3 linked regions of the Homo sapiens genome follow. The protein of the gene in region 1 purifies or fractionates together with the protein of each later gene. This does not show direct contact. Each region holds a gene or a part of one and is shown in the gene's direction. Other genes may lie near its edges.

What was found.
Region 2: the proteins of EDEM3 (region 1) and ANKRD22 purify together in Homo sapiens (co-immunoprecipitation; one large-scale study listed by IntAct). This does not show direct contact.
Region 3: the proteins of EDEM3 (region 1) and FBLN7 purify together in Homo sapiens (co-immunoprecipitation; one large-scale study listed by IntAct). This does not show direct contact.

Annotation. Positions count from the first base shown.
Region 1 is NC_000001.11:184,744,713-184,748,362, reverse strand, and holds part of EDEM3 (ER degradation-enhancing alpha-mannosidase-like protein 3 isoform 2 precursor), read left to right. Parts: intron 1-3,650. UniProt on the Homo sapiens protein: Involved in endoplasmic reticulum-associated degradation (ERAD). Accelerates the glycoprotein ERAD by proteasomes, by catalyzing mannose trimming from Man8GlcNAc2 to Man7GlcNAc2 in the N-glycans.
Region 2 is NC_000010.11:88,831,314-88,834,963, reverse strand, and holds part of ANKRD22 (ankyrin repeat domain-containing protein 22), read left to right. Parts: intron 1-2,937; coding exon 2,938-3,129; intron 3,130-3,650.
Region 3 is NC_000002.12:112,136,782-112,140,531, forward strand, and holds the start of FBLN7 (fibulin-7 isoform 1 precursor), read left to right. Parts: upstream 1-1,603; 5' UTR 1,604-1,874; coding exon 1,875-1,949; intron 1,950-3,750. UniProt on the Homo sapiens protein: An adhesion molecule that interacts with extracellular matrix molecules in developing teeth and may play important roles in differentiation and maintenance of odontoblasts as well as in dentin formation.

The DNA of each region.
Region 1 (3,650 bases):
TGATTCTCCTGCCTCAGCCTCCTGAGTAGCTGGGATTACAGGTGTGTGCCACCATGCCTGGCTAATTTTTGTATTTTTGGTAGAGATGGGGTTTCACCATGTTGGCCAGGCTGGTCTCGAACTTCTGACTTCAAGTGATCTGCCCACCTCTGCCTCCCAAAGTGTTGGGATTACAGGTGTGAGCCATTACACCCGTTCTGTTTTTTAATTAATTTTTTTTTGTCACCCACATGTCAACCCTTATTTCTTTCAAAATCATTTATCCCTGGTTAATTCAGTTTGGGCAAAGCATAATTTAACAAATCTAGGCTAATGATTTTGAGATGGCCAAGTGGTTCCATCCTATACCCTCAGACCTTAGCCATCTCATAAATGCGTACTGATGAATGCAGTTCCAAAGTTAAATAAAATAGCATATAGCTGGATAAGTTCAGTTTCTCACAATGAATAGGATCATCTCTTTATAAAGCATGGTATCTTTAATATCTTGTTCTTTTTAGGTAGAACAGTTATATCAATGGCAGAAAGTTATATCAATACATTTTTTCTAACTATAGAATACACTTAGTAGGTTTGTGACAGTGCAGGTACTGAGGGCAGCTTTCAGAGGACTTTCTGGCCTGTGCCTATTGGGACCTAACTGAGTAACTTTCTGCTACAATTAACTACTTAATAAGATTTAAGAGAGAAGGATTTCAGCTTCAAAGACTGGGAACTCTTGAAAGTAACATTGTCTTATATATTTCCAGTGGGACCATACGTGTCCACTGTAATATGTATTTTAAAATGTTCAACTATTTTACAATGTGAGTGACTCTTGCTGTGTACTTCTTCTATATTCAATCTGTGTGAGGTCTGTAACCCAAGATTTAGTCTAGAATTTACACTTCCTCTTTTCAAGTTCTCAACTAACATGACACAGTTCTAAAATATTAACGAGAATACAGTTGCCTTGTATTTGTTATTTGAAGTCAGTTGGAAATTTTTTTCCGGTCCCTACACTCAGAAACACTTTTAGCTTTCTGTAGGGTAAAAGTGTATAGGTTTTGGAGTTAGAAGGGCTTGAGTTCAAATCCTGTCTCAGCTATTTACAGGTTGGACCCTAAACAGGTTATTTAACCCATCTGAGCAGTGTCTTTCTATGTAAAATGAGAATAATTGCAAAGAGTTATTGTAGACTATAGATTTTTTTTTAAAGAACAGGAACCAATTTCTTTAATTTTTAATACATTCACCTTTTTTATATGTCTTGTGCCTGGTACATAAATGCTTAGCAAATTTTTTTGAAAGAACTGAATTGAATTCTTGTGAAGATGAAGTAAAATAATGTTTTTTTTTTTTTGCATTTGATCATTGTGATATATCTTTGTGTTTAAATGCAAAGAAATAATAAACTTAATTAAAAATACAAGTTTAAGGTGAATTTCAGGGCCTGTAAGTCATTTACTTTTTTGTAGTCAGTTGCCTACTATCCTAAAATATAAAATGCCTGGTACATGGCAGGCTTTTAATAAATGTTGAAAGTTTTTCCTCATTTCTCACTAGTTCTTTCTAATACTACTCTCCAGTCTGGTCTACAGTAGAACAATTCCTTTAACCTTCTTGCTTCCCAGGAAAGCAGTGGTGTTTTCCAAAGACAAGCAATATAGTATTATTAAGAGCAAGAACTCTGGACTTGGAGCAGGACACCCTGAGATGGCTCTGCCACCTCTCATCTGGGTTACAATGGGAAAGTTACCTAGTCTTCCTGAGCCTGTTTCTTCATCTCTGCAAAATGAAGACAATGGTTTGCCAGCCTCACAATGTTGTTAGAAGGATTAAGCAAGTTAATATAATGAAAGTGCTTAGAACTAATATCTGGCAAATAGGAAGCATGATGTAAGAATTTACTGCTGCTACTGATAACGACTACTACTATCATTATTATTTATTTCCTGCCTAAATTGAAATTGCCCTCCTAAAATCCACTTAGCCTGTAACTCAGAACTTGTTCTCCAGATAGTACATAGAACTTGCTTAAAGCGCATACATTCTTTCCTGTTCTTGGCATGTGCCCTTTGAACTTACTTTCTATTAATGTAATAGAAGGTTCTATTAATGCTATTTCTTAATAGAAATGTCCTGCCAGCTTTAGGTAGATTACTACAACTCTGCCATCTCTGGACTTAAATCTAGGGATTTTTGGGTTTTTAACACTTATTGGCATGACTATTAATAACGACTATGTTTGACAAATGTCTAGCCCCAGTCAGTCTGCAGTTTACCCACAGTGAATTGCACAGATGGCTTTCTCGTTTACCAAATGACATGAATTTGATGTTTATCTTAGCAGTTCTTGTGTGACCTTATTTAACCCCAGGCCACAGTCACTTTAGGGCTTCTGTTAGCATGTTTTGAGTATTTGTGTTCAGTTTAGTTTGCAGATTAATTTAGATGACAAAATGACATGTATTTGGGCCATCCAAATGTAGAACCTTTTTGGAGCTCCCAGTGTTTTTCCTGTCTGTGTTAGACAACTCAAACTGTTACAAGCAAAAACTATATTCTGGTAAGAGCCCTAAACATTAAAAATAAGCTTGGATAGAGTTGGTAAGCACAATTTCCTTTAGTAGAATCGTACCTAATAACCACTATTAAGCTTGATTTTGTGAAAGCAACAGTAGAATAGTCTTTATTAATCAAACCAAAGGAACTCTTTCAAAATGAACTTCCTGTGCATTTCTAGATTTATGTACATTTTTTTGGAGTGCCTCTCCCCTACCCCCCAATGTTTAAAAAAAATTTTTATTGTTGTAAAATATACATAATATGAAATTTACCATTTTAACCATTTAAGTTTACAGTTTTGTGGCATTAAGTACATTCATATTGTTGTGCATTCATCTCTAGAAATTTTTTCATCTTCCCAATCTGAAACTCTGTACTCGGTGTTTCTCTTTAATGGTTCATTCATCAGAAACAGTAATTCTGTAAACAAAGTATTTTAGGCATGGTACTAATGGGAGTAAGGGAGATATAAATTTATATTTACCTTTTTTTGTGTAGACTGTTGTGGGACTATCATCTATGAGTCATTGTTCCTTGGCCTTTGCTTTCAGAACATCCTAAAACCCTACCAAAATTACACAAGAAATTCTATAGTATCCTCTCAAAACATTTTGTAATCACACTCTGATACTCTACATAGAATTTTAATTCAGTAGAACCAGATCGTTCAGCTAATTCATCTTTTTTAGATATAATTTACAGACAATAAAATTTCAAATTGAGTGCACAATTCTTTTTTGACAATTGTATACAGTTGTTTAACCACCATCACAGTCATGATACAGAACATTTTCATCACCCCAAAAATTTAACTCATAGTTATTTGCAGTAAATTCCTTCTCCCCACCTCTGACGCCTAGCAACCTTGATTTGTGTTTTGTCACTACACCTTTCTCTTTCCTAGGATTTCATATATATGGCATCATACAGTACATAGTCTTTTGATTTACTTTCTTTCATTTAGCATGATGCTTTTGAGATTTATCCATGTTGTTGGAGATATATTGTAATTCCTATTTATTGCTCAGTAGTGTTAGTTGATTTGCTAGAACACAATATTGGAGATATATTGTAATTCTTATTTATTACTCAGTAGTATTAGT
Region 2 (3,650 bases), on another chromosome or scaffold:
TTCTCTTTTTTTTCTTTCTTTTTTTTTCTTTTTTTGAGGCAGAGTTTCGCTGTGTCGCCCAGGCTGGAATGAAGTGGCGCGATTTCGGCTCACTGCCGAATCAAGCGATTCTCCTGTCTCAGCCTCCAGAGTAGCTGGGATTATAGGCACCAGACACCATGCCCTGCTAATTTTTTTATTTTTGTATTTTTAATAGGGATGGGGTTTCTCCATGTTGGCCAGGCTGATCTCGAACTCCTGACCTCAGGTGATCCACCCACCTCGGCCTCCCAAAGTGCTAGGATTACAGGCGTAAGCCATCGCGCCCAGCCAAAACTTTCCATTTTTAAAGAGAAGCTGGAAAGCCAGATTAATACATGAAATATTCTAGTTTTTTAAATGTTGTTAAGTTATTTAAATATTTGAGAAAAGAGAAAAAGAGCTCTAAAGCCACTTGTTTCCAAGCTATTCATGGTAGACCACCAATTTCCAAATGCTTGATGAGTAGTGCTCACTGCTAATCACTCCATTATTAAATTTTCACTAGTTTATGGTAAAATCTTTTAAAAGGACAATAAAATGAATTTTTCTATAAAGCTAACTAAATCTACCCAATATAAAGAACTGCTTTCCCCCTGGTGATTATATTCTTACATATTTTGTTAAAATACCCTTCATTTATCTTTGTATTTGTTAAAATATCTTTTATGAAATAATAGTATTGTTTTAAATACATTTAATTGAAAAATTAAGAGTTGGTGACTTAACACTGTCTTGTTGCATTTAGTTTTGTTTTACTTATTTTTGAACTCCAAATGACTGGGCATTGCTGCTAGGACAATGGCAAGTCACTGAAGGTTTTATTTAAGCACTATTGTGTTGACATAACCCTGGACTCCAGCAGTGATGTGGAAGATTTGTTGGTTGAGACTAGAGTCCCAGAAATAATCGAATATGAAAACCCAAGGGAACTTCTGCCTTACTCCTTCATTTAATGACTGAGGACACTGAGATACAGTAGGGAAGTGAATTGTCCACAGTCACCGGGGGAGGTAGTAACAGAGCCACAATTACATCCTGTTTTTCTGACATGAGACAAGTGTTTCAACTGCCCCAGTCCTTTCTGCATCAGCCACACAGTATGCTGAGACACTGAAGTGCCCAACTGTTGGAAAGCTTAGTAAAGGGAAGACTTCAGGATAACAGAATAGGTGATTTGTGAAATTGTGCATTTCTAGTGAAACTTAAAGCCCATGTATCATGTTCATTTCATTTTTAAGGTACAGAAGTTTGCCTTTAATTGCTGCTGAGTTAATTTTCTGTTAGGATGTTTCTTTCATGAGTAGGCCTTTAGGTTTAAGAGTATAACATAGTTCACTTATTGTGATATTTGGCTATGTTAGAACCTCAGTTTATTAGCAAATACACCCACTTGACTTTCCCCTTGATACGTCCCAGTTTCCACAGGTGCTTATGTACCTACCCATACCAAAAAATTTTTTTCTTGTCATTTACTCTGTGTATGTGTGTCTCTGTCCTATTTCCCCACTTGACAGATACATTTTACATGGATAAGATAACATATTTTATTCTCTGGTACCTGTGACTGGCACACAGCAGGGATTTGACTTGATTATTAAAGAATGACAATTGCAATAATGATAACTTTCATACACTAAGCACCATCCATATGCCAGGTATTACTCTAAATGCTTTTTAAAAGACATCATCTGAAGATTAGTCTAAAAATATTCAGTGTTTGCCTCCCATGTGCTGAGTGCTGTGTTGAATGCTGGAGAAATAGCAGTAAATAAAATGGGGTTTACGGCCTGAACTTCAGTGCCTTCCTTCTCAGCACTGCCTCAAACCTCTCCTGATTCATGCTAGCCCTAAATACATGATTGTACATAATTAAGAAAAGAATTACAGTATGTCAGTTGCTGTGAGGGAGAGATACTGAATGTTGGGAGTAAGAAAAGACTTCTTGGATAAAATGAAAATTAAATTATGACATGAAGGGTGAGCTAGGTGTTATTCAGAAGAAAGGCAGGTGGTGTGTTTTATGCAGAGAGAGTATTCAGGGCAGAAGCCCAGATGGAAGGTACCAAACATGGTTTGGTTCAACCAAACTTTGAAGAACAGAAGTCGAGAAAGGCTGGAGCAGAGGAGGGAAAGAGGACAAGATCATGCTACCTGAAGTCTTGCTATTAAACTCCCATGGTGCCTTGTGAAGCTCTGTATAATGCTTTTTATAAACAGCATCTAATCAAGTGTAGTTAACCATATAATTTGTATATTATTTGCCTAAAAAACTGTCTTTTCTGCTCTGTTGAGCTCCTTGAATACAGGGTGCTATGTAGGTCTTATTTCATCACTAGTACTGCCCTAAACTCCTCCCCATATGCTTGTTTTCTATTTTATCTTTAGTAAAGATAAAGATAAAGACATTTTATCTTTAGTAAAGATAAAGATAAAGACATTTTGTCTTTACTAAAGATAAAGATATTTTATCTTTAGTAAAGATAAAGATAAAGGTATTTTGTCTTTAGTAAAGATAAAGATAAAGGTATTTTGTCTTTAGTAAAGATAAAGATAAAGGTATTTTATCTTTAGTAAAGAAAATGAATGCTTTTCCGACAGGCCCACCTACCTGTAAGCACTATACATAGTTTCCTTACTGAGTTGAATTTGTAGTATTTCATTTATTTATTCATCCATTTGATGGACATAAGTGTGTGCCAAGAAAACTTAGGAAAATGTAGGAGGTTCCTCATGGGCTAATTCTTGATCTAGACTTAAAGCTAGGCATAACTGAGACCAAAAAATCTCACCTGCAAAGCAATATATTACAATTTTAAAACATTTAAATTTTAATGTATTGGGTTATGACTTTTTTTTCGTTTTTGTGGTTTAATTATGCCAGTATTTCAAAACCTGCTTTTGTTTTTCCCGACCCAGCCCATCTGCCAAGCAGCCTATCAGAATGACTTTGGACAAGTGTGGCGGTGGGTGAAAGAAGACAGCAGCTATGCCAACGTTCAAGATGGCTTTAATGGAGACACGCCCCTGATCTGTGCTTGCAGGCGAGGGCATGTGAGAATCGTTTCCTTCCTTTTAAGAAGAAATGCTAATGTCAACCTCAAAAACCAGGTGAGGTCATGACATGAATGGAGAGTGTAATTGTTCATGATAATTCTTTTCTCTTTGAATCACTAGAAGTGGTGCATGTCATTTTTTAAATTGCTTGCAGCTCCTAATACGAACAATTATCTTAGCCTACTTTAGAAAGACTGACACATACCAAGGACATTTTATTAGGCTAAACAGCAAAATAAAACATAGTTCAATCAGCAGGCATAATTTGTGATAAATTATGTCTTTTTACCTCTGGTTCACTTATTTGGCTGGATAGAGCTTCTTTCTTTTCCTTCTTCCTCTCTTCATCCTCCTCTTTCTTCCTCTCCCCTCTTTCTCATTACTAACACAGAAGCAATGGCAAAGATTTCTTGGAAAAGAAATGCTGTTTCATTAGTTAGATTTTTACCTGCTATATTAATGTCCTGATCTCCAGAGGATCCTATAGTGTTCTTGTAGAATGAAAGAGTACTATTGAGAAATTTACCAAGGACAAATAAGCTCATGAGCCAGAGGTTACTTGAAGTCACACAAAA
Region 3 (3,750 bases), on another chromosome or scaffold:
CAGTGGCTCACACCTATAATCCCAGCACTTTGGGAGGCTGAGGCGGGTGGGTCATTTGAGGTCAGGAGTTCAAGACAAGCCTGGCCAACATGGTGAAAACCTGTCTCTACTAAAAATACAAAAATTAGCTAGGCGTGGTGGTGCATGCCTGTAGCCCCAGCTGCTTGGGAGGCTGAGGCAGGAGAATTACTTGAACCAGGGAGGCAAGGCTGCAGTGAGCTGAGATCAGGCCACTGCACTCCAGCCTAGGCAACAGAGCAAGACGCCGTCTCAAAGAAAAAAAAGATTTACATGGGTCCCGTTCCACCTCCTTTGCATGGGAAGGTTGGGGGAGCAGCACTGTAGGATTTCCTGGGCAACCAATGCCCAGGAGGCCAGCCTAAACCATGTCCCCTGCTTTTTGGGGCACTGGCTAGGTTCTGAATGTTGGTGTCTCCCCTAAATTTATATGTTGGAAACCTCATTCCCAAGATGATGGCATTAGGAGGTGGGACCTTTGGGAGGTGACTAGGTCATGAGTGCAGAGCCCTCAAAATTGGGATTAGTGCCCTCAGAAAAGAGGCCCCAGAGAGCTGCCTTTCCCCTGTGAGGACACGGGAACCAGAACTCTGGCCCTCGCCAAACACCTAATCTATTGACACCTTGATCTTGGACCTCCCAGTCTCCAGAACTGTGAGAAACACGTTCTATTGTTTATAAGCCACTCAGTTTATGGTATTTTGCTATAGCAGTTTGAAGGGACTAAGCCAGGACTCCAGCTTTCCTTTCTGGCCTCTGCTGGGAAACAGCTCCTGCTCTGTGGTCACAGTCTTGTGGGCTCCCCGTTCCCTGAGCTCTGAGTGGGCTCAACAAAGTGAAATGTGGAAGAGGAAAAAGAGATCTGGGGCTTGACCAGACTTGTGTGTCCCAGGACATCTGCAGTGACTGCCTTCAGAAAACCTTCCAGGAAGAACGTCAGTCATGCCTTCCGGGAGCTCAGGTCTGAGGCATCTGGTTGTACCACAGCCCTGATGGCAGGGGACTTCAGACTGCTCATGCCGGCCTGGCACTTCCTGATTCGACTTCAGCAAGGCAGGCAATGTTCTAGAACCTGACCTCCGATTTAAACTGAGTTTCTCCTTCCCTTGAGCAAGGAGGACAGTGAATCAGAAGGACGTAGATCCCCTCACTGTATCACTGTGTGTGTATCTACTCACTGTGCGTGCGTGTTCTCACGGCCCCATTGCATTATTTAAAGGGACACTAGTTTATTCGGATGGAGAGCTCAGTCCACCCCACGTCAAGCTTATGAAGCCCATTTCCTGGCCCCCTTCTAGGAATGTCGGGAGGAGGGTGTCGCGTGGGCTTTGAAGTAGGACAGACCTGGGTTTGGGTTTCTGTTCTGCCACTTGTCCTTGGTGACTGAGCCTCAGTCTACTTGGTTGGGAAATAGGACGGTCGGGAGTGAACCCGCCCAGGGTGGGCTTCCAGTCACCCGCACATATGCGGGGCACTGGCCGCCCATCCCTGCCAGGCCCCGAGGATGCCCGCGCTCGTCCTCGGCGTCGCGGGTTGGGCGCGCTCCCGGGCGCATTCCCGGCCGGGCAGCCCCTCCTCCCTCGTCCTTAGCCCAGGGGCCGGCGCCTCCCCGCCTCGCGCGGACTGTCTCGTGCGGGCAGCTGCGGGCGCACCTGGACCCTCGCAAGGCCCGGGCGGCGCCGATCCCCGCGGGACGCGCTGCGCTCGGGGCCTCCCGCCTCCCCCCCTGCCCCAGCCGCCCCCCGGCCGCGCGGCGCCCCGCACCCTGCAGGGACGGCTGCCGCATCGCTGGGACAAACTCGGCAGCGGAGGCAAAGTTATTTCCCCTCCCAGGCAGCGGGATTCCGACTGGCAAGATGGTGCCCAGCTCTCCGCGCGCGCTCTTCCTTCTGCTCCTGATCCTCGCCTGCCCCGAGCCGCGGGCTTCCCAGGTCAGTGTCCCTCCCGCCTCTCTCCAGGCCAGTGTCCCTCCCGCCTCTCTCCAGGCCAGTGTCCCTCCCGCCTCTCTCCAGGCCAGCGTCCCTCCCGCCTCTCTCCCCTGTCCCTCCCGCCTCTCTCCCCTGTCCCTCCCGCCTCTCTCCAGGTCAGTGTCCCTCCCGCCTCTGTCCCCTGTCCCGCGCGCCTCTCTCCACGCCAGTGTCCCTCCCGCCTCTCTCCAGGCCAGCGTCCCTCCCGCCTCTCTCCAGGCCAGCGTCCCTCCCGCCTCTCTCCAGGTCAGCGTCCCTCCCGCCTCTCTCCAGGCCAGCGTCCCTCCCGCCTCTCTCCAGGTCAGCGTCCCTCCCGCCTCTCTCCAGGCCAGTGTCCCTCCCGCCTCTCTCCAGGCCAGCCAGTGTCCCTCCCGCCTCTCTCCACGCCAGTGTCCCTCCCGCCTCTCTCCAGGCCAGTGTCCCTCCCGCCTCTCTCCAGGCCAGTGTCCTTCACGCCTCTCTCCAGGTCAGTGTCCCTCCCGCCTCTCTCCAGGCCAGCGTCCCTCCCGCCTCTCTCCAGGTCAGCGTCCCTCCCGCCTCTCTCCAGGCCAGCGTCCCTCCCGCCTCTCTCCACGCCAGTGTCCCTCCCGCCTCTCTCCAGGTCAGTGTCCCTCCCGCCTCTCTCCAGGCCAGTGTCCCTCCCGCCTCTCTCCAGGCCAGTGTCCCTCACGCCTCTCTCCAGGTCAGTGTCCCTCCCGCCTCTCTCCAGGCTAGTGTCCCTCCCGCCTCTCTCCAGGCCAGCGTCCCTCCCGCCTCTCTCCAGGTCAGCGTCCCTCCCGCCTCTCTCCAGGCCAGCGTCCCTCCCGCCTCTCTCCACGCCAGTGTCCCTCCCGCCTCTCTCCAGGCTAGTGTCCCTCCCGCCTCTCTCCAGGCCAGCGTCCCTCCCGCCTCTCTCCAGGTCAGCGTCCCTCCCGCCTCTCTCCAGGCCAGCGTCCCTCCCGCCTCTCTCCACGCCAGTGTCCCTCCCGCCTCTCTCCAGGTCAGTGTCCCTCCCGCCTCTCTCCACGCCAGTGTCCCTCCCGCCTCTCTCCAGGCCAGTGTCCCTCCCGCCTCTCTCCAGGCCAGTGTCCCTCCCGCCTCTCTCCACGCCAGTGTCCCTCCCGCCTCTCTCCAGGCCAGTGTCCCTCCCGCCTCTCTCCCCTGTCCCGCGCGCCTCTCTCCATGCCAGTGTCCCTCCCGCCTCTCTCCACGCCAGTGTCCCTCCCGCCTCTCTCCAGGCCAGCGTCCCTCCCGCCTCTCTCCAGGTCAGCGTCCCTCCCGCCTCTCTCCAGGCCAGCGTCCCTCCCGCCTCTCTCCACGCCAGCGTCCCTCCCGCCTCTCTCCACGCCAGCGTCCCTCCCGCCTCTCTCCACGCCAGTGTCCCTCCCGCCTCTCTCCACGCCAGTGTCCCTCCCGCCTCTCTCCAGGCCAGCGTCCCTCCCGCCTCTCTCCAGGCCAGTGTCCCTCCCGCCTCTCTCCCCTGTCCCGCGCGCCTCTCTCCACGCCAGTGTCCCTCCCGCCTCTCTCCAGGTCAGTGTCCCTCCCGCCTCTCTCCAGGTCAGTGTCCCTCCTGCCTCTCTCCAGGCCAGCATCCCTCCTTCCTCTCTCCCCTGTCCCGCGCGCAGGGGAGGCAGCACCAAGGCTGGGGGACCCGGGCTTGCCACTTTCCACTCGGATGCCTGGGTTGAGAGCTCGGAGCGATGCCTGGGCTGGGGTTCAGTTTTCAGAGAGAGGTGCAGGGTCCCCCACCTGTCACCTCAGATGCATCGCTGGCCGGGCCCCTGGG